4 linked regions of the Homo sapiens genome follow. The protein of the gene in region 2 interacts with the protein of the main gene of each other region in a biochemical or structural test. Each region holds a gene or a part of one and is shown on either strand. Other genes may lie near its edges.

What was found.
Region 1: of the proteins of UBA1 (region 2) and UBE2R2, one has a biochemical effect on the other in vitro, tested with the Homo sapiens proteins (5 studies listed by BioGRID, with this or other methods).
Region 3: of the proteins of UBA1 (region 2) and UBE2D1, one has a biochemical effect on the other in vitro, tested with the Homo sapiens proteins (8 studies listed by BioGRID, with this or other methods).
Region 4: of the proteins of UBA1 (region 2) and UBE2L3, one has a biochemical effect on the other in vitro, tested with the Homo sapiens proteins (24 studies listed by BioGRID, with this or other methods).

Annotation. Positions count from the first base shown.
Region 1 is NC_000009.12:33,820,156-33,827,188, reverse strand, and holds part of UBE2R2 (ubiquitin-conjugating enzyme E2 R2), read right to left. Parts: intron 1-7,033. UniProt on the Homo sapiens protein: E2 ubiquitin-conjugating enzyme that accepts ubiquitin from an E1 ubiquitin-activating protein, and catalyzes its covalent attachment to other proteins by an E3 ubiquitin-protein ligase complex.
Region 2 is NC_000023.11:47,210,796-47,215,628, forward strand, and holds the end of UBA1 (ubiquitin-like modifier-activating enzyme 1), read left to right. Parts: intron 1-46; coding exon 47-121; intron 122-240; coding exon 241-430; intron 431-1,628; coding exon 1,629-1,717; intron 1,718-1,975; coding exon 1,976-2,068; intron 2,069-2,194; coding exon 2,195-2,386; intron 2,387-3,531; coding exon 3,532-3,633; intron 3,634-3,741; coding exon 3,742-3,842; intron 3,843-3,998; coding exon 3,999-4,134; 3' UTR 4,135-4,333; downstream 4,334-4,833. UniProt on the Homo sapiens protein: Catalyzes the first step in ubiquitin conjugation to mark cellular proteins for degradation through the ubiquitin-proteasome system.
Region 3 is NC_000010.11:58,337,986-58,345,018, reverse strand, and holds part of UBE2D1 (ubiquitin-conjugating enzyme E2 D1), read right to left. Parts: intron 1-7,033.
Region 4 is NC_000022.11:21,570,701-21,577,733, reverse strand, and holds part of UBE2L3 (ubiquitin-conjugating enzyme E2 L3), read right to left. Parts: intron 1-7,033. UniProt on the Homo sapiens protein: Ubiquitin-conjugating enzyme E2 that specifically acts with HECT-type and RBR family E3 ubiquitin-protein ligases.

The sequences.
Region 1 (7,033 bases), on a different chromosome or scaffold from region 2:
CCATGCTTGACTAATTTTTTTTTATTCGAACAGCGTCAAAAAATAATAATAATAATAAGACAATAACCAAAACCTTTTTATTTTTTTTTGAGGCAGAGTCTCACTGTCGCCCAGGCTGGAGCGCAGTGGCGCGATCTCGGCTCACTGCAGCCTCCGCTTCCTGGGTTCAAGCGATTGGCCTGGGTTCAAGAGATTCTCCTGCTTCAGCCTCTCGGATAGCTGGGACTACAGGTTCACGACATCATGCCTGGCTAATTTTTGGATTTTCAGTAGATGTGGGGTTTCACCACGCTGTCCAGGCTGGTCTCGAACTTCCGAGCTCAGGTGATCTGCCCACCTCTGCCTCCCAAAGTGCTGGGTAAAAATTATAATCGTGAGCCACTGCACCCACCCAATAACCAAAACATTTTTATATGTATTTGTTACTAAATCAAATAAAGGTGTTTAAAGTGGACTATTCACTTTTCTTTTTTTTTGGAGGGGGCGGCAGGGGACAGAGTCTCACTCTGTTGCCCAGACTGGAGTGCAATGGCGTGATCTCAGCTCACTGCAACCTCTCCGCCTCTGGATTCAAGCCATTCTCCTGCCTCAGCCTCCCGGGTAGCTGGAACTACAGGCACGTGCCACCATGCCCTGCTAATTTTTTGTAGTTTTAGTAGAGACGGGGTTTGACCGTGTTAGCCAGAATGGTCTCAATCTCCTGGCCTCGTGATCCGCCTGCCTCGGCCTCCCAAAGTGCTGGGGTTACAGGCGTGAGCCACCACTCCTAGCCACTTTGCATCTTAAATACATATTCCAACACCTGAATTTTCCAATTATCATGTGGAAGATCATTTAAGTAACATCAAACCTTGGTGATGTGAACTAAATTTACCTCTTCAACTTAGTATCTATCATTCCATTCACTTCAGAGTCAACTAATTTTGAGGTACATAAGCATAATCTCTGAATAACAATTTCTTGCTGAATAAAGTTGATATTAACACAATCAAAGAGGTTAAATTTTACTCAGGAATCTCTGTAGGATTTTTTTTTTTTTTTTTGAGACAGAGTCCCATTCTGTTGCTCAGGCTGGAGTGCAGTGGCACAAGATTTTGGCTCACCGCAAACCTGCACCTCCTGGGTTCAAGCGATTCTCCTGCCTCAGCCTCCCAAGTAGCTGGGACTACAGGCGCATGCCACCACACCCGGCTACTTTTTGTATTTTTAGTAGAGATGGGGTTTCACCATATTGGCTATGCTGGTCTTGAACTCCTGACCTCAAGTGATCTGCCCACCTCCGCCTCCCAAAAGTGCTGGGATTACAGGTGTGAGCAGGCATGAGCCACTGCATCCAACCAACTCAGATATCTCTGTAGTCGTATGTGAAGCAGTTCAAAAGAAGTTCAGAAACATAAAAGAATTAAACCTTTTCAATATAATCTTTAAGCAAGATGGAAATCTGTAGTCCTAAACTCTGAATTTATACCTTTTCCTCACTGTTATTTTTCCATAACTAGATTATCAGAGGTAGCCTAATTTGCTGGATGGTCTCCTTTCTCTCACGTGTCTCCAACTGACCATTAAGTTGGAAAGATGGAACAGAACATTTTATCATTATGTTGAAAAATGGTCTAACTAGCCTTAAAGCTTTAAAAGCTTTGCTTTTGGACAGGTGTGGTGGCTCATGCCTGTAATCCCAGCACTTTGGGAGGCCGAGGTGGGTGGATTACCTGAGGTCAGGAGTTTGAGACCACCCTGACCAACATGGTGAAACCCCATCTCTACTAAAAATACAAAAATTAGTCTGGCATGGTGGCACACGCCTGTAGCCCCAGCTACTCGGGAAGCTGAGGAGGAGAATTGCTTGGACCCAGGAGATGGAGGCTGCAGTGAGCCAAGATTGTACCACTGCACTCCAGCTTGGGTAACAGAGACTCTGTCTCAAAAAAAAAAAAAAAAAAAGCTTTGCTTTTATGAAGATCATTCTTTTTGTTTTTGTTGTTTGCCTCCCAAAGTGCTGGGATTACAGGCGACCGCCTGGCCGATCATTCTTAAAAGCTCTAAGGTTATCATTGTCCTAATACTTTCACTTACTATCTTTAAGGAAGTGACTTTTCCTACAATTTGCTTTTCCTTTAATGAGTCCTCAATAAAAATTTTTCCTGACACAAAAGGTGAAAAAAGGAGAATCAACGCAGAGTATTAATTAGGACCTAAATCCTTCAATCCAGGAAGAAATAATCCTTATTTTAGCAAATCTATGACATTGAAACTGGTATTTAAAAAAAAATTTACCAAAAGATTTCAATGAAATGGTCTCTCACAACTAGGTTATAAGTACCACTTGGCTGATGGCAATTACAAGACTTCATGGATTCCAAGAATTTTTTTTTTTTTTTTTTTTGAGACAGAGCTTCACTCTGTTGCCCAGGCTGGAGTACACTGGCATGATCTAGGCTCACTGCAGCCTCCACCTCTTGGGTTCAAGCAATTCTCCTGCCTCAGCCTCCCAAGTAGCTGGGACTGCAGGTGCGGACCATCACACCCGCTAATTTTTTTTTTTTTTTTGAGACAGAGCCTCGCTCTCTCGCCCAGGCTAGAGAGCAGTGCCTCGATATCAGTTCACTGCAAGCTCCGCCTCCCGGGTTCACGCCATTCTCCTGCCTCAGCCTCCCAAGTAGCTGGGACTACATGTGCCTACCACCATGCCTGGCTAATTTTTTTGTATTTTTTTAGTAGAGATGGGGTTTCACCACGTTAGCCAGGATGATCTCCATCTCCTGACCTCGTGATCCGCCCGCCTCGGCCTCCCAAAGTGCTAGGATTACAGGCATGAGCTACCGCGCCCGGCCCACACCAGCTAATTTGTGTATTTTTAGTGGAGACCGGGTTTCACCATGTTGGCCAGGCTGGTCTTGAACTCCTGACATCAGGTGATCCACCCGCCTCGGCCTCCCAAAGTCCTGGGATTACAGGAATGAGCCACCACACCTGGCCATCTAAGAAATTTCTTAATCAAAAAGAAGTTAAAAGGTAGAAAAATATGCATCTTGTAATCAACTAAACAGGATAAAAGCATATTCTATGAAAAACTAAGGCATCATATTTGGTTTGAAAAATGTTCTGAGAAACAACAAAAAGTGAAACTTCATTTAGTTTCCAAAACCCTTAGACCTTAACTGTGTTTCCATTTATAACGTTACCTTAGTTCACCCAGTACTCAAGACAACTTCATCTTCCAGAAAGAGACAGCTAAATGCCCTAAGAGGTAGTTTCAAAGTTAACTGAGAGAAATGGGGGAATAAAAGAGCATTCGTTTTATAATTTTAAAGGAGCTGTTTAAAATTGTCTTTAAGTTGCCTATCCAAATACCTTACAAGAGGATTCTTAGCTCATCGGCAGTAAACCCTCTGAAAAAGATACATAAAATTAGTTTACGTGTACCCATTTTCTCTGAGAAAATTCTTCAATTTCTCAAAAGAATCCCTGTCTCAAAAAGGCAAACAATCATTTTCCTAAAAAAATTTTTTCAGCCAGGCGCGGTGGCTCATGCCTGTAATCCCAGCACTTTGGGAGGCCAAGGCGGGTAGATCATCTGAGGTCAGGAGTTTGAGACCAGCCTGGACAACATGGTGAAACCCCGTTTCCACTAAAAATACAAAAATTAACCGGGCGTGCTGGCACGCACCTGTAATCCCAGCTACTTGGGAGGCTAAGGCAGGAGAACTGCTTGAACCCGGGAGGCAGAGGTTGCAGTGAGCCAAGATCGCGCCACTGCACTTCAGCCTGCGCAACAGAGCAAGACTCCATCTAGGAAAAAAAAAAATTTTTTTTCAACTATATTTTACCAATTAAAGAGTCATAAAATAGGCTGGGTGCAATGGTTCAGACCTATAATCGCAGTGCTTTGGGAGGCTGAGGCGGGAGGATTACTTGAGCCCAGGAGTTCAAGACAAGCCTGGACAACATAGCGAGACTCTGTCTCTAAAATAATAATAATAGGCTGGGCACACTGGCTCACATCTGTAATCCCAGCACTTTGGGAGGCCAAGGTGGGCAGATCACTTGAGGCCAGGAGTTCAAGACCAGCCTGGCCAACATGGCAAAACCCCATCTCTACTAAAAATTACAAAAATTAGCCAGGCATGGTGGTGCACGCCTGTAATCCCAGCTACTTGGGAGGCTGAGGCACGAGAACTGCTTGAACACAGGAGGTAAAGGTTGCAGTGAGCCGAAATCACACCACTGCAGTCCAGCCTGAGCAACAGAGCGAGACTCAGCTAAAAAAAAAAAAAAAAAATTAATAAGAAGAAGAAAAAGAAAAAAAAGAAATAAAATATCTAAATGACATTGCCAGATCTAGGCTAAGTCTGGTTTGTTTTTTTAGGGGGAAGAGGGAAGGCAGAAAATAGATTCATTCATTGCAAAACAAATGAAGCATAGGAAATAATGCATATTCTCTTATTAAAAAAAAAATTATTTGGCTGGGTGTGGTAGCTCACATCTGTAACACCAGCACTTTGGGAGGCCAAGGTGGGAGGATTGTTTGAAGCCAGGAGTTCGAGACCAGCCTGGCCTATGAGACCCTTTCTGCATAAACAATTTTTTTTTTAAATTAAAACGAGTGTGGTATGCACCTGCAGTCCCAGCTACTCAGGAGGGTGAGGCAAGAGGATCCCTTGAGCCCAAGTGTTTCAGGCTGCAGTGAGCTATGATCACACCACTGCACTCCAGCCTGGGCAACAAAGTGAGACCCTATCTCTTAAAAAAAAAAAAAAAAGGTTTTGAAGAGTTTCTTTAATGTAAGTCAGTGTAGGCCAGGTGTGGTGGCTCAGGCCTGTAATCCCAGCACTTTGGGAGGCTGAGGTGAGCGGGATCACCTGAGGTCAGGAGTTTGAGACCAGCCTAACCAACATGGAGAAACCTCGTCTCTACCAAAAATACAGAATTAGCTGGGCATGGTGGCGCATGCCTGTAATCCCAGCTACTCAGGAGGCTGAGGCAGAAGAATCGCTTGAACCCAGGAGGCGGAGGTTGCAGTGAGCCGAGATCGCTCCACTGCACTCCAGCCTGGGCAATAAGAGCAAAACTCAGTCTCAAAAAAAAAAAATATATATATATATATGTCAGTGTTGAGTCTAATAAAGATGTTCCTAATAAGGAAAACTTTAAGTATACAACAAATACTTTCTAAATTATCAGACTGGAGTTTTCTAAAAATGGAACACATCTATATTTCATTACCTCAATCAAATTATTTAATAAAATCAAAACTATAAAAGGTTGGCCAGGAGTGGTGGCTCAGGCCTCTAATTAGGATTACATTTTGGGAGGCTGAGATGGGCAGATCACTTAAGGTCAGGGGTTCAAGACCAGCCTGGCCAACATGGTGAAACCCTGTCTCTACTAAAAATACAAAAAGAATTAGCCAGGTTTCATGGCGCACGCCGGTAATCCCAGCTACTCGGGAGGCTGAGGCAAGAGAATCGCTTGAACCCAGGAGGCAGAGGTTGCAGTGAGCTGAGATCGTGCCACTGCACTCCAGCCTGGCAAAAGAGTGAGACTCCATCTCAAAAAAAAAAAAAATTTTTTTTTGTTATGCATATCATAAAAGAGGCACTCTTTCTGGCTCTAGACTCACTGCTATAATGCTTTAGATAAATAATGCAAAAGTTCCAAGGAGGTTCAGTACTAAAGCACCCACACTAAGCTACAATCCTTAGCAGGAGTTATTTGAAAAGATAGTTCCAGCCGGGCATGGTGGCTGACGCCTGTAAAACCAGCACTTTGGGTGGCTGAGAAAGGAGGATCCTTTGAACCCAGGAGTTTGAGACCAGCCTGGACAAAATAGTGAGACCCTACCTCACTTAACAATACTGAAGAAAAAAAAATTAGCCGGGCGTAGTCATGCCTGTAGTCCCAGCTACTCAGGGGGCTGAGGTGGGAGGACTGCTTGAGCCTAGGATGTGGAAGCTGCAGTGAGCCATGATCACACCACTGTACCCCAAACTAAGTGACAGAGAAAGACCCTGAAAAAGTTCCTTTCAAAAGAAAGGGGGTGAACTTGTTAAAAGTCTTCATTAGCTACTGACTTGATCCACAATTTATTTTTCTAGTAACAATAAAATTCCGACTTGCTTAGGTAGCAAAATAAGAAACTACACAAAAAGATAGTAAGGCCAAAAAAGATTGTATAGTATTCAGAATGGACAGAAGAAACTATCTTTGCCCATCCTACATCTATATGGCCCAAAACTAAGAATCACGTGGATTGGCGATATTAAATAAGCGAAAGCAGGATGAATAAAAAAATTCTGTGAAATACAGGTCTCACAAATCTCCAATGCAGATCCTGTGGGTAAGAGACAAGAGCCAACTATTTCAGGGTGAAAAAGATCAGTTAGAAACCTATTAATATATAAAAGTTAAAGGAATTACAGTATGAAAAATGTAAAGAATGACTGGCAGTCCCACTGCCTTCACGAATGACTATGCCAAAAAGGGAAAAGAGTTTAACTTGAAAATAAATTATACTAAATGTTCAAGGACTAACATTTAATAAGGGAGAAGAGTGATATGGTAGGGAAAGCTTTGTGCCAACTTTCAACTGCAGCTGTAGTGAAATACACTAAAAGCCTTGTCTTAAGACAAAAGCAGTAAAATAAAAACAATGGTTTTAAACATATCCCCAGTGTCAACTGCTCATGACCATAAATTTGCCTTTTTCTAATGAACAACTAATGGGATAAAAGGCCATATAAGGGAAAAAGTAGTCGAAAATACAATCGAACAAACTTCTCACACAAGACTAAACCATAAAACCTGTTTACAAATTTTCATACATGTCAGAATTAAAGGTAAAAACACTCAAAGCTTAAGAAATCTAACATCACAAAGCACGAGATTAAATCATTCTTTTAAACAAGGACTGAAGTTCAGAAGCATTTAATTTAAATCAGTGTATTAACACAAGGAATCCTTCCATACTTCCTATTTCAGAGAGGGTTCTCCACACTCCTTTCCCAGACTTATGCACAAATATTACAACTTG
Region 2 (4,833 bases):
GCCTTCACTCTCAGGTCCTGTTCTCAAAAATCTCTCCATCCCTTAGCTCACAAGCTCAGGAGCGCCGTTCTGGTCTGGGCCCAAACGCTGTCCACACCCGCTCACCTTTGATGTCAACAATGTAAGTCTCCTTTCTAGGGTCTTCTGGGGTCAGGTGGAGGGTGAATAGGTGGGAAGGAGGTGGCGGCTCCCCACTCGAGGGCTGATGTGCTCACCCTTCCCTGCCCTGCCTTCTCCTAGCCCCTGCATCTGGACTATGTGATGGCTGCTGCCAACCTGTTTGCCCAGACCTACGGGCTGACAGGCTCTCAGGACCGAGCTGCTGTGGCCACATTCCTGCAGTCTGTGCAGGTCCCCGAATTCACCCCCAAGTCTGGCGTCAAGATCCATGTTTCTGACCAGGAGCTGCAGAGCGCCAATGCCTCTGTTGGTGAGGGTGTTTGGCCAGTTGGCCAGGAGTCACCCCACATGTCCCCGGCCTAGTCCAGCCTCCCCACCAGTCCTCTACCCCTGGTTCTGCTCTGCTCTGTGACCCCAGGCCTGAGGTTTACCCACACCTTCCTTTGAGCCTCCCTTTGACATGAAGAGGGTAGGTTGGGGCAAATTATCTCCCTCCCTCCTCCTCCTTCCCACTATCTGGCCCTCAGGAGAACTTGCTGTTTTACTCTTGCTCTGTGTATTTCCCTTAGTTTTGTTCTTTCTTCTGTTTCTTCTTGATCTGTTCATCTAGGAGGTATGATCTCTACCAGCAGTCTCTCTCCCTTGATACTTTCCTGCCTTGTCTCCTTCCAGATCCGCCCCCATCTGTACATCTACCTGCATGTTTCTCTGTGCATCTTCACCCTCCATAGTTTGGGGCTGCGGTTTACTGACACCCCCACCCCACCCCATCTGCATATTTTTTCACCACCCCTCCCTTCTGTATATGATGCTTCTGTAGCTCTGTAACGCCCCCTACATTTACCTTCCTTATATCTCCCCCGTCTTCCTCTCCATAGATCTCCTCCCATTTCCCCTTCCATGGTCCCCATCTTCCTTCTGAAATGTCTACTCCTTCATGTTCCTTTATGTATGTCTTCCAATCTTTCCTTCCATAGCTCTCATCACCTTCATATATTTCTTCCATCTTTCTCCTCCCACCTGCCTCGCCCTCTGTATATACCCCCACTCTCCCCCTTTTATATCTTCTCCATCTCCCCCCATATCTTTCCTCTATGTCCACATCTGTGTATTCCCCCCAACTTCCCCTCCATATATCTTTTTTACTCCCCTTTTCCTCCCTGTATCCTCTGTGTTCCCCCCATCTTGCTCTACATCATTCTTCCCAAGATCTTTACGTCTCCCATCTTGATCTCTCCATCTCCACTTTCTCCTAACATTTTCATTTCCGTTCCTTAGTGTCTCTAGAGAGATCATTCTTGATAGCCTCAGCTCTTTCTCTGTGTTTTTCAGGTTTGTATTCTGCTCTGCTCTACCTCTCCTCCTTGCCCCTTTTCTCTCCCAGGATGTCTCTCCTTTCCAAATCCTTTTTGTACCTGAATACCTTTTGCCCCACCCTGGGCTCTCATTTCCATCTCAGACCTTAGCCTGGGATCTAAAGGGCTGACAGTGTCCCTTTCTTCATGCAGATGACAGTCGTCTAGAGGAGCTCAAAGCCACTCTGCCCAGCCCAGACAAGCTCCCTGGATTCAAGATGTACCCCATTGACTTTGAGAAGGTATGGGGTGGGGCTCAGGACAGGGAAGGAGGATGGGCAAAGCATAGACAGGCTGGAGAAAACAGGAGTATCTGGAGCCAGCCCCGGGCCTTTGTGGGGATCAGATTGTGGGCCTGCCATATGGCTCTGAATGAGTAGGTGTTCCCAGCCATCCCTTTGTGATCTGGGAGAGTCCAGCAGGCAATTGCAGTGGAGGATACACATCTTCTTTATCTGATCCTCTCCCCACTGCCTTCACACCCTCCCCACTCATAACAGGATGATGACAGCAACTTTCATATGGATTTCATCGTGGCTGCATCCAACCTCCGGGCAGAAAACTATGACATTCCTTCTGCAGACCGGCACAAGGTGAGGGGAATCTAAATCTGATGTTCCACCCTCCTCCAGGTTTGAGTTACCCACACTTAGCCCCTCTGTAGACCCTGAGGCTCTTGTACTTAACTACCACCTTCTTTTGTCCCTTCTGTCTCTCAGAGCAAGCTGATTGCAGGGAAGATCATCCCAGCCATTGCCACGACCACAGCAGCCGTGGTTGGCCTTGTGTGTCTGGAGCTGTACAAGGTTGTGCAGGGGCACCGACAGCTTGACTCCTACAAGAATGGTTTCCTCAACTTGGCCCTGCCTTTCTTTGGTTTCTCTGAACCCCTTGCCGCACCACGTCACCAGGTGGGGGCCTGCATCCGAAGCAGGGTTTGGGTGGGGTGTATCTGTGTAGATCTGGTTCTGATTCACGTCATACCCTGTCACCAGGTGAGGGTTTCTGTCTGTGTACCTACCCTTTTTGTGTATCCTTTTTCACTTATTCATTAATCACATTATTTGAGTACGTGCGAAAAGATGGGATATTTGAATTGTGCCCTGGGAGATTATTAGTAACTACACAATAATGGCAGCCAAAATTTATTGGACGCTTCCTACACTTAAGTGCTTTGCTTGCTTCATTAATGAATTCACTCAAATATTTATTGAGCACCTTTTGTGTGCAGGGACTCTTCTAAGTTATGTTCCTCAAGTAGATTATATAAATAACCTATTAAATGATTTTGGAATCAAAAAAGGATAAAAAGAGGCCGGGCGTGGTGGCTTACGCCTGTAATCCCAGCACTTTGGGAGGCCGAGGCACGTGGTTCACCTGAAGTCAGGAGTTTGAGACCAGCCTGGCCAACATGATGAAACCCTGTCTCTACTAAAAATACAAAAAATTAGCCAGGCGTAGTGGTAGGCACCTGTAATCCCAGCTACTCGGGAGGCTGAGGCAAGAGAATCACTTGAACCCGGGAGGCGGAGGTTGCAGTGAGCCAAGATGGCGCCATTGCACTCCCGCCTGGGTGACAGAGCGAGACTGCATCTCAAAAAAAAAAAAAGATAAAGAGGACTTGAGAATACCAGGGGGCGAGGGGATGTATTTGAGATTTTGTGTAGGATGGTCAGAAAAGGCCTTGCTGAAAAGATGACATTTGAGATCAGACTTGGAGGATGTAAGGGGACAAACTGTGCAGGCTTGGTGGCGAGTGGGGACACATTCCAGGCAGAGGGACCAGTTCTTGAAAGGGTACCAAGATAGGGGTGTGCCTGGCAAGTTGGAGGAATTCAAAGTCCCCAGAGTGAGTGTGAGATTGAGGAGGGTAGGAGATGAGAAGAAAACAGAATTTCATTGCTTAGGGTGAGATAGGAACCACAAGAGGATTTCGAACAAAAGAGGGTTGTGATCTGACTAAACACGTCTGCATGGGGGTAGGGGGGATGGAGACAGATGGGGGCTGGACCCTCTGGGATGGTCTCCATCTTACACTCCCCTCTTTGTCTTGCAGTACTATAACCAAGAGTGGACATTGTGGGATCGCTTTGAGGTACAAGGGCTGCAGCCTAATGGTGAGGAGATGACCCTCAAACAGTTCCTCGACTATTTTAAGGTAAGGCCCCTCCCTTACTCTGTCACCCCACCTCAGGGGGCGAGGTGTACACGGTGACTTGCTGGCCTGTCCACCTCCATGACCCTGCTGTTCCCCCTCCCTCTCCAGACAGAGCACAAATTAGAGATCACCATGCTGTCCCAGGGCGTGTCCATGCTCTATTCCTTCTTCATGCCAGCTGCCAAGCTCAAGGAACGGTTGGATCAGCCGTGAGTTGGACACTGGCCAGGCTAGGGGAGGCCCTGTATGGGTTGGGGAGCCTCATCATCCAGCTGTCCCACTCCAGTTCACTGCCCCTACCTACCTGCCCATCCTCTCTTGCTTTCTGCCCTCCTGACCCTATACTCCCATCCCCCTATCCCCAGGATGACAGAGATTGTGAGCCGTGTGTCGAAGCGAAAGCTGGGCCGCCACGTGCGGGCGCTGGTGCTTGAGCTGTGCTGTAACGACGAGAGCGGCGAGGATGTCGAGGTTCCCTATGTCCGATACACCATCCGCTGACCCCGTCTGCTCCTCTAGGCTGGCCCCTTGTCCACCCCTCTCCACACCCCTTCCAGCCCAGGGTTCCCATTTGGCTTCTGGCAGTGGCCCAACTAGCCAAGTCTGGTGTTCCCTCATCATCCCCCTACCTGAACCCCTCTTGCCACTGCCTTCTACCTTGTTTGAAACCTGAATCCTAATAAAGAATTAATAACTCCCACATCGCCTGCCCTGCTGGTTCCAGGGAAGGAAGGGACTTCCTGGAGCTGTCTGGTTCAGATGATAACTCAGAGGGCTCAACCCCACCACACCTGCCAGTTTTCTGGACAAAGAAAATGTAATTGCCACCTCTTCCTGCCCTCTCTGCCTAGGAAGAGATGGAGGCACCAGTGAGGCCATAGTGAGCAGGTACTTGGGTCCATGTGACTGTTAATTTGAGCTGGGTTCAATTCTCACCTTCTCCATGTCCTAACTCCTTGCTCTGTGAAGAGGAAAGTTACGGTGACCAGGCTGCTAGGGCATGGCCAGCGTGCCTTATGTCCTTAGGGCAGATCCCCTCCCACCTGGCTCAAAGCACTCAGACCCTGGGCAGCCTTTTGTGGTCATGGTTCCCAGCACCAGGAATGCCTGTGCTGCTCTTAGTTCAATTTCCTTGCTGCAGGGGTGTCTTAAACAGCTCTGCCGAATGCCAGTGCCTGCAGGCATACTTCGTGATTTTTA
Region 3 (7,033 bases), on a different chromosome or scaffold from region 2:
GTAGTGCACACCTGTAGACCCAGCTACTCAGGGGGCTGAGACATGAGAATCCCCTAAACGCAGGAGGTGGAGGTTGCAGTGAGCTGAGATCATGCCACTGCAGTCCAGCCTGGGTGACAGAGCCAGACTTTGTCATTAAAAAAAAAAAAAACAAAAAAACTATTACCTATAAGGCAGCTGTGCAGCTGTGTATGGCAGTTGTCTAAATATGTGGATAAAACAATCTTAAGTACAAAAGCTAACAAATAGAGAAAAGCTAAATGGAATTAGAGAACCACGTTATGTTACCAGTGCAATAATAGAAATACATTTTATTTGCATCATAAATAATTGCTCTTTAGTTAGAGAATAAGATTTATTGACCTTATACATTAAGAGATGTCAACATTTATTTCAAATCTGATATTTCAAAGTAAATGGAATTTTAAGTCAAGTCTAATATAGCTCCATAGCACAGTGCCAAAGCTCAGTGTTTGTTTTTGTGATCACTGTTGTTTGCTGCAAAAAAAAAAACAGCAAATACATTATTTAGGTTTGCCTAAAATTATGATTCAGAAGAGATGACAGAAAGTATCAAGTTCAATCCATTAAGTTTCCAAGTGAGGAGTATAAAGACTGAGTCTCCTGGCCAAGGTCACAAAGCCAAACTAGGACAAAGGGACAGACCATCTGACTTCTACTCCAGCACTCTTCCCACCCCAATTCAATACTCACCTCAACACTGTAACAGCTAGAGCACATTATTTTCAACCAACACTGAAGCAAACAATGCTCCAGTACTGTATTAAGGCCATTTGCACATTTTTAGCTATGCTCCAGAGAAACAAAAGTGTGATAAGTGAAGGAATGAGAAGGAATTCTTATCTTTTCTCAGGAGCTTATATCATATAAAAGGTTAGAAACGAATACTATTTCATAAGCTTTCAGGAGCGTTGTGTTTAAAGACACTCTGAGAGTCAAGAAAAACTTTACAGGAAATTATACACAACTTAAATAAATAGAATTTTCACATAAAATATGCAAATGGAGCATTTTGAGTGCTCCATTATCAAAACTTACTATTTACTTTACAGTAACCAAAAAAAGATGGAAGAAAAAAGAGAGAAAACCTAGCTGCCTATTTATTAAAACGTGTGTAAAACATGAACATGCCTACCAATACCTACCAAATATTTGTTATTAAATATTGCTTCTTACAGCTCTATACCTAATAACTGGCATATAGTGGGCACTTGAGTGTTTCATAATAAATTCTCTACTCTCTGTTAGTATCATCCAGTATTATTCTTGAATATTATGGTTGTACATCAGTCACTAAAATGCTGCTACTTGTAGAAGAAAACAATGCATACGGTCTGTATCAAATGCAAACGTTTCCAAGGCTAGAACAGTTTACATTATGTGTATATGTGTATCAATATATTTGTGTGTCTCTGTGTATGTGTATATGTATTCATTTGCTCTCCCTATATATGTATACATGTATATGTATGGTTGTATGGCATGTATTTTTAACATTAATTTTACCTAAGGATCTTATGTTATGGAACAGTGATTTTCCAGCTTTCCTTACAGCAATTTATAATATGAAAAAGATTTTACATTACAACCTAGTACACACACACACACTAAAACAAATTTCATGAAACAACACCCTTACTATATGCAAAGCACTAATATTTTCTATTCCATTTTAAAAAGTGGATGTTTATTATTCACTAAACTGTTTGGAAACTCATAAAAGAGAAAAAAAAAGATACTGGGAAGGTGTACACCTTAGTTTGGCATCCATTTCTTAGAAATAACCTACAGTCAATAGATACCAACTGGAAAATACCAAAATGAAGTCTACAAACTATTAACCATCATTCATTCAAAAGTGCTGTTGAGCACCTGAAAAGGCTGGGTCATAAAACAAGTCCCCACTTGGGAGGCTAAGGCAGGTGGATCACCTGAGGTCAGAAGTTTAAGACCAGCCTGACCAACATGGTGAAACCTTGTCTCTACTAAAAATACAAAAAATTAGCTGGGTGTGGTGGTGGGCGCCTGTAATCCCAGCTACTTGGGAGACTGAGGCAGGAGAATTGCTTGAACCCAGGAAGCAGAGGTTGCAGTGAGCCGAGATCGCGCCACTGTACTCCAGCCTGGGCGACAAGAGCAAACTTCATCTCAAAAAAAAAAAAACAAAAAAAAAACCAAAAAAAACAAGTACCCACAATTTAAAAGGAGTCAAATAATAATAGAATTTGTTCTCTGACCATAATGGAATTAGAAATCAACAACAGAAAGCTATCTGTAAAATCTCCAAACATATGGCAAATAAATAACGTATTTCTAAATAATCCAAGGGTCAAAGAAGAGATAAAAAGGAAAACTAGAAAATATCTTTAAATTTAAGTGAAAACAAAATACAGCAAAATTTGGGAGAAGCAAAAACACAAGCCAGAGATTTCCTGGTTTAAGAGAAGAGAAGAAAAATGAACCCAGACCATTTGTTAGGTCCACTTGGTTTTCTCTAGACAATCCAACCATACTACTCCCAAACTCTGCTCGCATAAGGAGGGTGGCCACCTAGAATGAGAACAATCAGATTATTATCTGAGGAAGCTTAAGGTGAAGGAACCAACTCCTCAGCTCACCCCCACTGGAGAAGTTTCTTAAGTCTGAAAAAAAACCCAGGAATCTAAATAAGAACTGTGGTGTCACTAAAAGAGATGAGCCATACAAACGGGACCATATGAATAGAGGACAGTGGGAAATACATCCAGAAAGAGGTAAGACAAGAGGATGCAGAGCATGATGGTGGAATGGACAGCACTAGACTGTATGCTTCTAGATAGCAGCTTCCTCCCCATACTAAGGACAATCCTGGAACACAACAGCCTGTTATTGTCTAATGTGTGAAACTGAACCTTCACAGATTCATCTCAGAACCAAATTAAGCACAGAAAAACCTTAGCTTCTCAGAGACCATCAAGACCAAGATGGGCCAGAAATAAAACCTGTCCTGCCTTCAGACACATGTGCTAAGGTGGCCTGAGGACCTACCCCTCCAATTCCCAAACTGCAAATATGGTCATATTATATATTCTAGTATCATTTATTCCAGCATTTCACAGGAGAGGAGAGAGGATAAGTATCTCAATTCCTGTTGTTAATTCAATGTAATCAGTTTATTCACTATTAAAAAGGCAGGGACTATTACATTAGTAGATGACCATTAACTCAGTTTTATGGCTAAATATTAGGTTTATCATTTCTATTAGTAGCACTCATTAAATGAAAATAAAGGGCCCATATGTTTTCTATGCGTATTTCAGGGAACTAAAGCGAGTAAGGACGCTATTTTGCTTTCCTGGAGGCAATCCCACATCCTGCTAGGTTTGGTTTTCATATGTGCCTGGCTTCTTAAAATAGGCATAAACAGCTTTATTTAGTTCTAGGCTATTTATTTCCACAGAGAAGAAATCTCAGAACTTTTTAACTGTCATAGGTTACCTCATTTTTTTATACCTCTATTGCGATGAAGAAAGAAAAATACAGTATCAAGGACAAAAGAAAGACTGAGCTTAATTACAAAGATTTAAAAAAAAATTTACATCGTGGCTTATTAGAGAAAGAACACTATCTCGCTCTCATCTCAAGGAAAACCATTTATCCCAAAATGCATAAATACCGTGCTTCTTTAAGTTGTATCATTCTTTCTAGAAAGAACTGGAGTCTTGGATTTAATCTCATAATATGAACAGTTTACTACTCAAAACCACTACAGGAACTAAATGACTCTGTCAATTCAAAAAGTTATCTCAAATAAAAACTTCACAATGCAATGATACTTTTGACAGAGCATTTATGAACTACAACCAATGTTTCAAAATCCTTTTGGAGGAGAGAAATTCAAAGTGATGAAACAAAGATGATCAAAGTTATATTACTGATTTACAATGTTAAACGATCTCAGCATGTGTTACTTTGGAGCAGAGATTTGCGAAGCACAATCAACACATTTGAGCAATGTGTCAGTGAAAATGATCAAATATGCCAAGGTCTTAATTATAACACCACTTTACATTTGTATAGAACATTCCAGTTTGCAAAGCACTTATATCCCATAAACCCATTTGACTCTATGTCTTCCAGTTTAAGTACAATAGATACGAGTTCATGTGGATAAGAGAAGCTATGTACTGAAGTGGTTAAGAATATGGAATTACATAAGACACATTAAATTTAATTTTGCTTGCTTCTACTTCCCGTTTTAAAAACGTGGCTACTAGGAAATTTAAAATTAAAATGTAGCTCACATTGTATTTCTATTGGATAGCATTGTTCAGTCAGTTTATTGACAGATTTTATTTGCTATCCTAGGGGGCACAATCATTGGCATATAAAAAGATTAAGACAAGGAAATAACACTCTCTCCACTAAAGGATTTGACATTTTAAGTGAAGTGTCACAGGTTCAGTAATAATATTACAGCCAAGCTTAAAAGCAAAATAAAAAGTAAAGTCATACAAAACTTTGTCAGGGAATGTGGCTGTTCTCTTCTATAAACAGATTACTGATATTAAATTATGGAAAGTGATTTAAGAAACAATGTTACCATCTTTAAAAGCCCACAAATTTGCTCTGCTGAACAAGGAGGAAAATGCTCTGCCCATGGTCTGGTTTCTAGAACCTGAATGTAAAGACAGAATAAGGCAAGTAGTACTCTGATATCGTTTACTCCTTCATTTTACAGAGAAAGAAAATGAGTCTTAGCCTGACTAGGTGGCTTATCCAAAATGTCATCATTTCAAAATTTAATCAATATAAAAATGTTTATAAATATCTCATTAGTAACAATTATTTAGATTTGTATACTAGGTCTTCAAATTCCAGTACATATTTTACACTTCAGCACATCTCAATTTGGATACTAAATTTTCGTCAGCAATATTTGATCTATATTTAGATTTCATAAAGCTCAAGGTTGAAAACTAAATTTTCATACCCAATTTGTTTCCATGTGGCTACTGGCTACATTAGACAGAAAGCTTTATAGTATATCTGGTGAGTTCAGTAATCTCAGTGAATGCTCTCTTCAACATCCAAAAACTATCATTCTCTCCTAAGAAGTGGAAGAGAAGGATCCTTGACTCTCTCTTCAGATAGGCAGTTTGGTAGCTTTCAGTAGCGATATGTAACTGCAACTATTTTTGTGTTAACTGGGCATGAGAAGGTATTAAATAAAAGATTCTAAGACTGAAAAAAAAAAAAAGGAATGTGGAATTGAAGCCAACTGTTTGTTTTGGAATCGTAGCATTGTCACTTACTAGATAATGTGATCATGAGTAAACTACTCAATATTTCCCTGCCTTAGTATCATCATCTGTAAAATGGAAATAACACTGTTTCTACCTCTTGGGTATACTAAGAATTAAGTCAATTAATATATGTCAAGTACTTAGAAGGCAGAGTAACGATTACAAACACCCTGGTTTTTGAGATCAGCAGCCTCATATGTATGGATATCCATACATATCCATTGTATGGAAATGTATGGAAAATATGTACTAGCCTCATTGTACGAAGCTAGTAAGCCACACAGCCAGGAATAAAAACCAGACCTTTGGCTGCGTGAGGTGGTTCACGCCTGTAATCCCAGCACTTTGGGAGGCTGAGGCGGGTGGATCACCTGAGGTCAGGAGTTCGAGACTAGCCTGGCCAACATGGTGAAAACCCATCTCTACTGAAAATACAAAAATTAGCCAGGTGTGGTGATGCAGGCCTGTAGTCCCAGCTACTCAGGAGGCTGAGGTGGGAGGGTCACTTGAGCCTCAGAGGCAGAGGTCACAGAAAACCGAGATTGTGCCACCGCATTCCAGCCTGGGTGACAAAGTGAGACCCTGTCTAAAAACAAAAAAAACTCAGACCTCCTTCTTCCATTTGATGCTCCGTCCATAGAGGGCTGGGTTAAGTATCCTAAAGTTTTCTAGACTGACATAAACAGTTTAACATAAAATTCTACAAATCAAAAAAATTCAGCAGCTCAAACATTTATCAAATTTGATTTTAATCTATGTCTCTCTATATATGTTTCAGATTACATTGATTATTAAAAAACAAAAACAACTAATGTTCCATTTGGGGGCCAGAATTACACACTAAGGAATAGTTCTCTGAGTTGCTATGTTTGTAAAACGGAACTCTATTGCCTCACTTTTCAAAAGACAAAAATGTAAATAAACTTATCACATCACATCACATCACATCACATAATGCTAGTATGATGTTCATTACCTCAAATTCTTTATCAAATAAAATCTATGATGATGACAATGACTGTTTTAGGATTTCCTTTTTTTTGCCCTTTAGTTTTCAAAACATTTGGTATTGGGATATTAACACCTGTAATTTAAAAAATAATCCTCCCCAAAAAAAGTGTTTCAAGTAATGAAAATAGTATTGATAGAAGAAACAACTTAGAAATTACTTCTAGAAAATAGATACCTAGGTGAAAAACTGTCCTCCTCTTTTCAGACATGTTTTAGGTATCTTTCCTTAGACTTTGTTCAAACTTTTTTTCTTTTAATGATTTAGGTGACTGCGATAACATCTTTCACTGTTATTTAAAAATAGGGCATGGGTGTGTAAATTTATGAGCTGGAATGCAAAACTGGCACACTAAATCAGAGCATTAAATCATTTAGTATATTCTAGTATAGTTAGTTTATTCTACTATAAAAATATATTTTAAGCATTGATATCTCCATGCTCTGTCTTTACATATAATTTTAATCCAATCATCTTTATTCTTTTTCATAGTGAAGAAATGTGAAATCATGAACTTTTTAACACTCTCAAATAGCCAAGCCAATTAAGAGATTATTGGCCGGGTGTGGTGGCTCACACCTATAATCCTAGCACCTTGGGAGGCCGAGGTAGGTGGATTGCCTGAGCTCAGGAGTTCGAGACCAGCCTAGGCAACACGGTGAAACCCCATCTCTACTAAAATACAAAAAATCAGCGGGGCATGGCAGCATGCGCCTGT
Region 4 (7,033 bases), on a different chromosome or scaffold from region 2:
AACCAAAACAAACAAAACCCAAACAGCCACCGAATCTGAAATGAACCCTCTTCTTCTCCATCTTGTCCCTTCCTCAAGACCAAAAGCAACCATCTAAAAAGCAGGAGCAAGGCCCAGAGAGCAGGGGACCTTGATGTTGGGCCTGGCTCCACCACTGACTTCAGCCTCCTCATCTGTAAACAGAGGCCACTGGTGTCTGCTTTCCAAGATCCCTCACACAGCTCTGGAATTCTAGAGTATGTGTGCAGCAAGGGTCAGAAGGAGAAACTACACAGCCACCAGAAGCAACTTTCTTAACTTTCTGCTTCAAGGTTGAAAGAGAAGACAAGGGCTGGGTGCGGTAGCTCACGCCTGTAATCCCAGCTATTTGGGAGGCTGAGGCAGGCGGATCACCTGAGGTTAGGAGTTCACGACCAGCCTGGCCAACACCATGAAACCCCGTCTCTACTAAAAAATGCAAAAATCAGGCCAGGCACGGTGGCTCACGCCTGTAATACCAGCACTTCGGGAGGCCAAGGTGGGTGGATCATGAAGTCAGGAGATCGAGACCATCCTGGCTAACATGGTGAAACCCCGTTTCTACTAAAAATACAAAAGATTAGCTGGGTGTAGTGGCGAGCGCCTGTAGTCCCAGCTACTCGAGAGGGTGAAGCAGGAGAATGGCGTGAACCCAGGAGGCGGAGCTTTCAGTGAGCCAAGACTGTACCACTGCACTCCAGCCTGGGCAACACAGCGAGACTCCATCTCAAAAAAAAAAAAAAAATTAGCCAGGCATGGTGGCACACGCCTGTAATTCCAGCTACTCAGGAGGCTGAGGCAGGGAGAATTGCTTGAACCCAGAGGTGAAGGTTGCAGTGAGCCAAGATCGTGCCACTGCACTCCAGCTTGGGCGACAGAGCGAGACTGCGTCTCAAAAAAAAAAAAAAAAAAAAGGAAAGAGAAGACAAGAAGCAAGAATATTACATCTGAGACCTCAACTTCTCAATCAAGAGTTGCTTTCGGCCAGGCGCAGTGGCTCACATCTGTAATCCTAGAATTTTGGGAGGCCGAGGTGGGCGGATCACAAGGTCAGGAGTTTGAGACCAGCCTAACCAACATGGTGAAACCCCAGCTCTACTAAAAATACAAAAATTGGGGGCCGGGCATGGTGGCTCACGCCTGTAATCCCAGCACTTTGGGAGACCGAGGCAGGAGGATCATAAGGTCAGGAGATCGAGACCATCCTGACTAACATGGTGAAACCCCGTCTCTACTAAAAATACAAAAAAATTAGCTGGGCATGGTGGCGGGCACTTGTAGTCCTGGCTACTCGGGAGGCTGAGGCAGAAGAATGGCGTGAACCTGGGAGGTGGAGCTTGCAGTGAGCCGAGATCGCACCACTGCACTCCAGCATGGGCGCCAGAGCAAGATTCCATCTCAAAAAAAAAACAAAAAAAAACAAAAATGCAAAAATTAGCCAGGCGTGGTGGCGTGCGCCTGTAATCCCAGCTACTCAGGAGGCTGAGGCAGAAGAATTGCTTGAACCCGGGAGGCGGAGGTTGCAGTGAACCAAGATCACACCATTGTACTCCAGCCTGGGTGAAAGAGCGAGACTCCGCCTCAAAAAAAAAAAAAAAAAAAAGTTGCTTTCAAACCTCCACCCCTGCCCCAGTTCAGCACCTGTGGGAGCCTTCCATAGCACCTATGCTCATCTTTGGACACAGTGACTGTCACACTACACTGGATGTTTACAATATGCAAGGTAAATTTCTGAGATATTAGAAAGACAAATTTTGAGTTCAAGAGCTATTCAATTTTAAGCTGGGCACAGTGGCTCACGCCTGTAATCCTTTGGGAGGCTAAGGTGGGTGGATCGCCTGAGGGCAGGAGTTCGAGACCAGCCTGGGAAATGGAGAAACCCCGTCTCTACTAAAAATACAAAAATCAGCCGGGTATGGTGGCGCATATCTGTAGTTCCAGCTACTCGGGAGGCTGAGGCAGGAGGAATGGCTTGAACATGGGAGGCAGAGGTTGCAGTGAGCTGAGATGGTGCCACTGCACTCCAGCCTGGGTGACAGAGTGAGACTCCGTCTCCAAAAAAAAAAAAAAAAAAAAAAAAAAAAGCTATTCAACTTTGTTGGGAAAAGTAAACTTTTCTCTTTTTTCTTTCGAGAGTCTCGCTCTATCACCCAGGCTGGAGCGCAGTGGCACCATCTCAGCTCACTGCAACCTCCGCCTCCCGGATTCAAGCGATTCTCCTGCCTCAGCCTCCAGAGTAGCTGGGATTACAGGCATGCACCACCACACTCGGCTGATTTTTGTATTTTTTTTTTTTTTTTTTTAGTAGAGATGGGGTTTCGTCATGTTTCCCATGCTGGTCTCCTCAAGTGATCCACCCGCCTTGACCTCTCAAAGTGCTGGGATTCGGATATGAGCCACCACGCCCAGCCAAGTAAACATTTTTCTTTTTCCTTTTCTTTTTTTTTTTTTTTTTTTGAGATGGAGTCTTACTCTGTTGCCCAGGCCAGAGTGCAGTGGCATGATCTTGGCTCACTGCAACCTCTGCCTCCTGGGTTCAAGCAATTCTCCTGCCTCAGCCTCCCGAGTAGCTGGGATTACAGGCACATGCCACCACACCCAGCTAATTTTTTTGTGATTCTAGTAGAGACGGGGTTTCACCATGTTGACCAGGCTGGTCTCGAACTCCTGACCTCAAGTGATCCACCTGCCTTAGCCTCCCAAAGTGCTGGGATTACAGGTGTGAGCTACTGCGCCAAGCCAACATTTTTTGAGACAGAGTCTCACTCTGTCACCCAGGCTGGAGTGCAGTGGCACGATCTCAGCTCGCTGCAACCTCTGCCTCTCAGGTTCAAGCAATTCTTCTGCCTCCCCCTCCCTAGTAGCTGGGATTACAGGCACGCACCACCAGGCCTGGTTAATTTTTGTATTTTTGGTAGAGATGGGTTTTCACCATGTTGGCCAGGATTGTCTCAATCTCCTGACCTCATGATCCGCCCACCTCGGCCTCCCAAGGTGCTAGGATTACAGGCATGAGCCACCGCGCCTGGCCCCCAGCCAACATTTTTAAACAAACATTCACACAGCTGTCTCAGTAACTCTTTCTCCAACCTACAGAATAAGAGAGTACCACAGGTAAGAGAATGGGCTCTCAGTGATGAGGGTATGTCCAGGCAGACTGGCCCCAACCTGTCCCGAAAACACCTTTGCAATACCATCTCCTATCACTCCTCCAAATCCTCCCCTCCTGTCAGGCTGGTCACCTCCCTGCCCTGGAACATGTCTTGGTTATTCCCAATAATATCTACAAGTAGCTCACACTTACTATATGCCAGGCACTCTTCTAAGCAGTTGGTATATATTAACTCATTTAACCTTCACACACGGACGAAGTAACTAAGGCACAGAGAGGTAAAGTAACTTGCCCAGGGTCACTCAGCTAAGACATGGCAGGCCCAGGATTGAAACTCCAGAACCTGAGCTTTTAACTGCTATGCTGTAGTCTTCCTCTAAACAGCTTTGCTCTGAGCAAAAGCCCCTTCCTCCCTTTCTTATAGGGGTGGGGGGCTTGGGGAGGTTAGGCTTATTTATGTCCCCCAAGAACAGGCATGATGAAGCTGGCCACAGGAGATACATGCAAAGCCCTTTCTGAGTGAGTGGCATGCCACTTCTCCTGGATAGCTGTAGCATCCAGGAGATATGTAGATCTGGCCCCTCAACCTAAAGGCTATGGCATCTCTGCCACCTGTCCTTAAATCCATCAGCACTGCCCTCAGTGACCCCTCTATAGAGAGGTAGCTCACCCTCCAAGGCTGGCCTGGCAGAGGGAGGTCTCCTAGCTCTGGAGGAACCAGGTGCACTGGACATGCCAATCTGGGGTAAAATCAAGCCAATGCCTCAACACTTCTGGAAAGCATCTCAGGGGCTGGCCTAACTAAAACCCAAAGCGGGACGGCACAAGGTCAGACGCAAGCAGCACTGGGGAGTAGGCAGATGGTCTCTGGGGCTCCTCAAAGCATTTCCCATAGGCACTGCCCACAGCCCTCCTGAGGGATGAGAGAGACTCAACCTCACTGGCCACCCAGTCCGTCTTCTTCAACTGCTGAAACCCTACTCGTGCTTAAAGGGCCAGGCCAAGTTCGACCTCCTCCTCAGTGTCAGAGGGGGTCTTTCCCTCTCCTGCAAGCCATTATTCAGGTGGCAGACATCTAGCACACAGTGGCCAGCCCAGGATTTCTTTGTTCCAGGTACGTGCCATTTTTCTCCTTTGTTGAGCTCCTCAAGGGCAGAGGAATTGCCCCTTGAGCTGAGTCTCAAAGGTCAAAAAGTTACCCTGGTACAGAGAAGAGACAGGGATGCCAATCACGAGATCCAGAGTGTGTGTGCAAAGCATGCTGTTTTTAGGGGACTCAACGGGCAAGTGGGGAGAGACAAGGCTGGTGAGACAAGACCTTGAAGGAAAAAGCTAAGGAATGTGCACTTGTAATCCAGAGTCCCAGCCTCATCCTCACCCTACTAAATTCTGCTCCAATCTCTGAGAGCAGGGCCTGCTCATGTGCACTTCTCTACTGCACACCACACCATACACTACTCTGATGCACTGCTGGTTAGGAGTAGTGTGGGACAGAGAGTGCGCTGACCAGTAAGGAGTTTAGATGAACCATTAAGGAGCTCGATGCAGGTGTCTACCACAAACAGGGATGGCCTGAACTGAGGCAGTGGGAGTGGCAGTGGCATTGGGAGTGGGAGTGGGGATGGAGAGAAGACAGGCAGAGAAGAGAGACTGAAGGCATAGTTCAGCAGAATCCGCCAGGTGACTAGACAAGGGAGGAAGAGCCGAGAAGGGCTCCGCTGGCGTTTTTTCCTTGAGCAACTGAGTAGACAAGTGAACCATTAACTAAGGTGGGACAGGAGGAGATGCATGGGGCCAGAGGGAGAGAGTCACAGGAGGAGCTAAGACTCAGATGCCTACAGATCTATGTGCCGTTCCCAAGAAAACTCTGGAAGTGGTTGGAGTCTGGCTCAGGAGGAACGTCTCTGTGGCTCTCTAATGTGCACAGTGTGTGCAGTGTGTGTGCAGTGTGAAGCTGCAAAGAAATGTGGCTCTCACATTTACTGCTGTAGCAAAGAATATAGAAATATCTTAAACGTAATAAATGTTCCAATAAAATGAGAATACTTTCAAGTGTCCTCTTATAATAAAATTTTAAAGCAACAGTCTCCTAATTTAGAGTTTTAACAAGATCAGAAAAGGCCCCAGTACCCTGAGACAAGAGTTTTTGTCTCAGGGTTTTCTTTTTTTTTTTTTTTTTTTGAGACGGAGTCTCGCACTGGAATGCAATGACACAATCTTGGCTCACCGCAACCTCTGCCTCCCGGGTTCAAGCAATTCTCCTGCCTCAGCCTCCCGAGTAGCTGGGATTACAGGCACCCACCACCACGCCCAGCTAATTTTTTGGATTTTTAGTAGAGACGGGGGTTTCACTATGTTGGCCAGGCTGGTCTCGAACTCCTGACCTCATGATCCGCCCACCTCGGCCTCCCAAAGAGCTGGGATTACAGGTGTGAGTCACCACGCCTGGCCTGCCTCAGAGTTTTCTAGTAAATACCTTAAAAGGTCCCAAATGTTGCAATAATTGAGTATACTCCTTCCCATCACCTGTCCCAAACATTTACAAAGAATACCATTAAGGGAGGCTGAAACAGTCCCAACTTACTGGAATGCATGAATTTAGAAAAAAAGACGCAACGTTTTTCTCAATTCACAAAGCCTCAGTGGATTCAGGACATTTACACTGGCATAACATCACATATAAAACTCCCCTCACCTCCTGAAACATGTGACATACTCATTGCTCTATCTCCTTAATCACCCAACCTCAGAATCTAAACCTATACTCAAAAGCAAACTACCTCACTGCTTAATACAACGAAACCCAAGGAATGAACTTTTAGAGGTTCCTCCTACTATGACTATGAACTGGGAGAAAATATAACAATATGAAGTTCTGAGTGAACATTTTTAAATAGCATTAGGCTGGGCGCAGTGGCTCACACCTGTAATCCCAGCACTTCGGGAGGCCTCGGCGGGCAGATCACCTGAGGTTAGGAGTTAGAGACCAGCATGGCAAACATGGTGAAACCTCCTTTCTAATACAAAATTAGCAGGGAGTGGTGGTGCACACCTATAGTATCAGCTACTTGGGAGGCTGAGGCAGGAGAATCGCTTGAACCTGGGAGGCAGAGGTTGTAGTGCACAGAGATCGTGCCATCGCGCTGAAGCCTGGGCAACAAGAGTGAAACTCCTTAACTCAACAGTTATGTCATGATAAGTAATAAGACATTACACACACACCCCTCTAAATCCACAGATTTCCCCTCTGAGAAAAGCCCTTCTGGGAAGCTACTCAACAGGAGGGCCCTTAGGGGAAATGTGTGCAGTGTGAAGCTGCAAAGAAATGATCAGATGGCAATCAGTTGCCTAAGCCACACATAAAGGTTTCACTTTTGGCTTTTGCAGCAATTTCCCCATCCTGATTGAAGCAATGGTTACAATCTGGTTGTAGCCAACAATGCTAAATTAGCTGCTTGCAAATTAAAATGTACTTAATGTTTTATTAACACTGTAATTCCTAAAAAGGCTTCTAAAAGAGGTTAAGCCTCCTGGCAAGTGCTTTTGAAATAAAAGACTTTATCATACTCACTTTGCCTAAAATAACTTCTCAGTGTAGTATATGTAAATCACTCTACTTTTAATAATGTGTTTTACACTATCTGCAGACAGTCCATTGTTACAAAGAAATCTTTGCTGTGGAATGTCCTAGAAAACATTTTTAACAGAAATCTAAAGTTCTTTAAGATGTAATTAATTTGATCATTCAACATTTGCTAGATTGCTATGCCTAAGGCACTGTTCCATGCACTAAGCCCCAACTTTTCACCAACGAAAATCACTTTATTACCACCCTATGTACTGAAAAGACTGTTTATCAACTTGTATCAATAATTTTTCTTCCTTTAAAAGAAAAAAAAAACA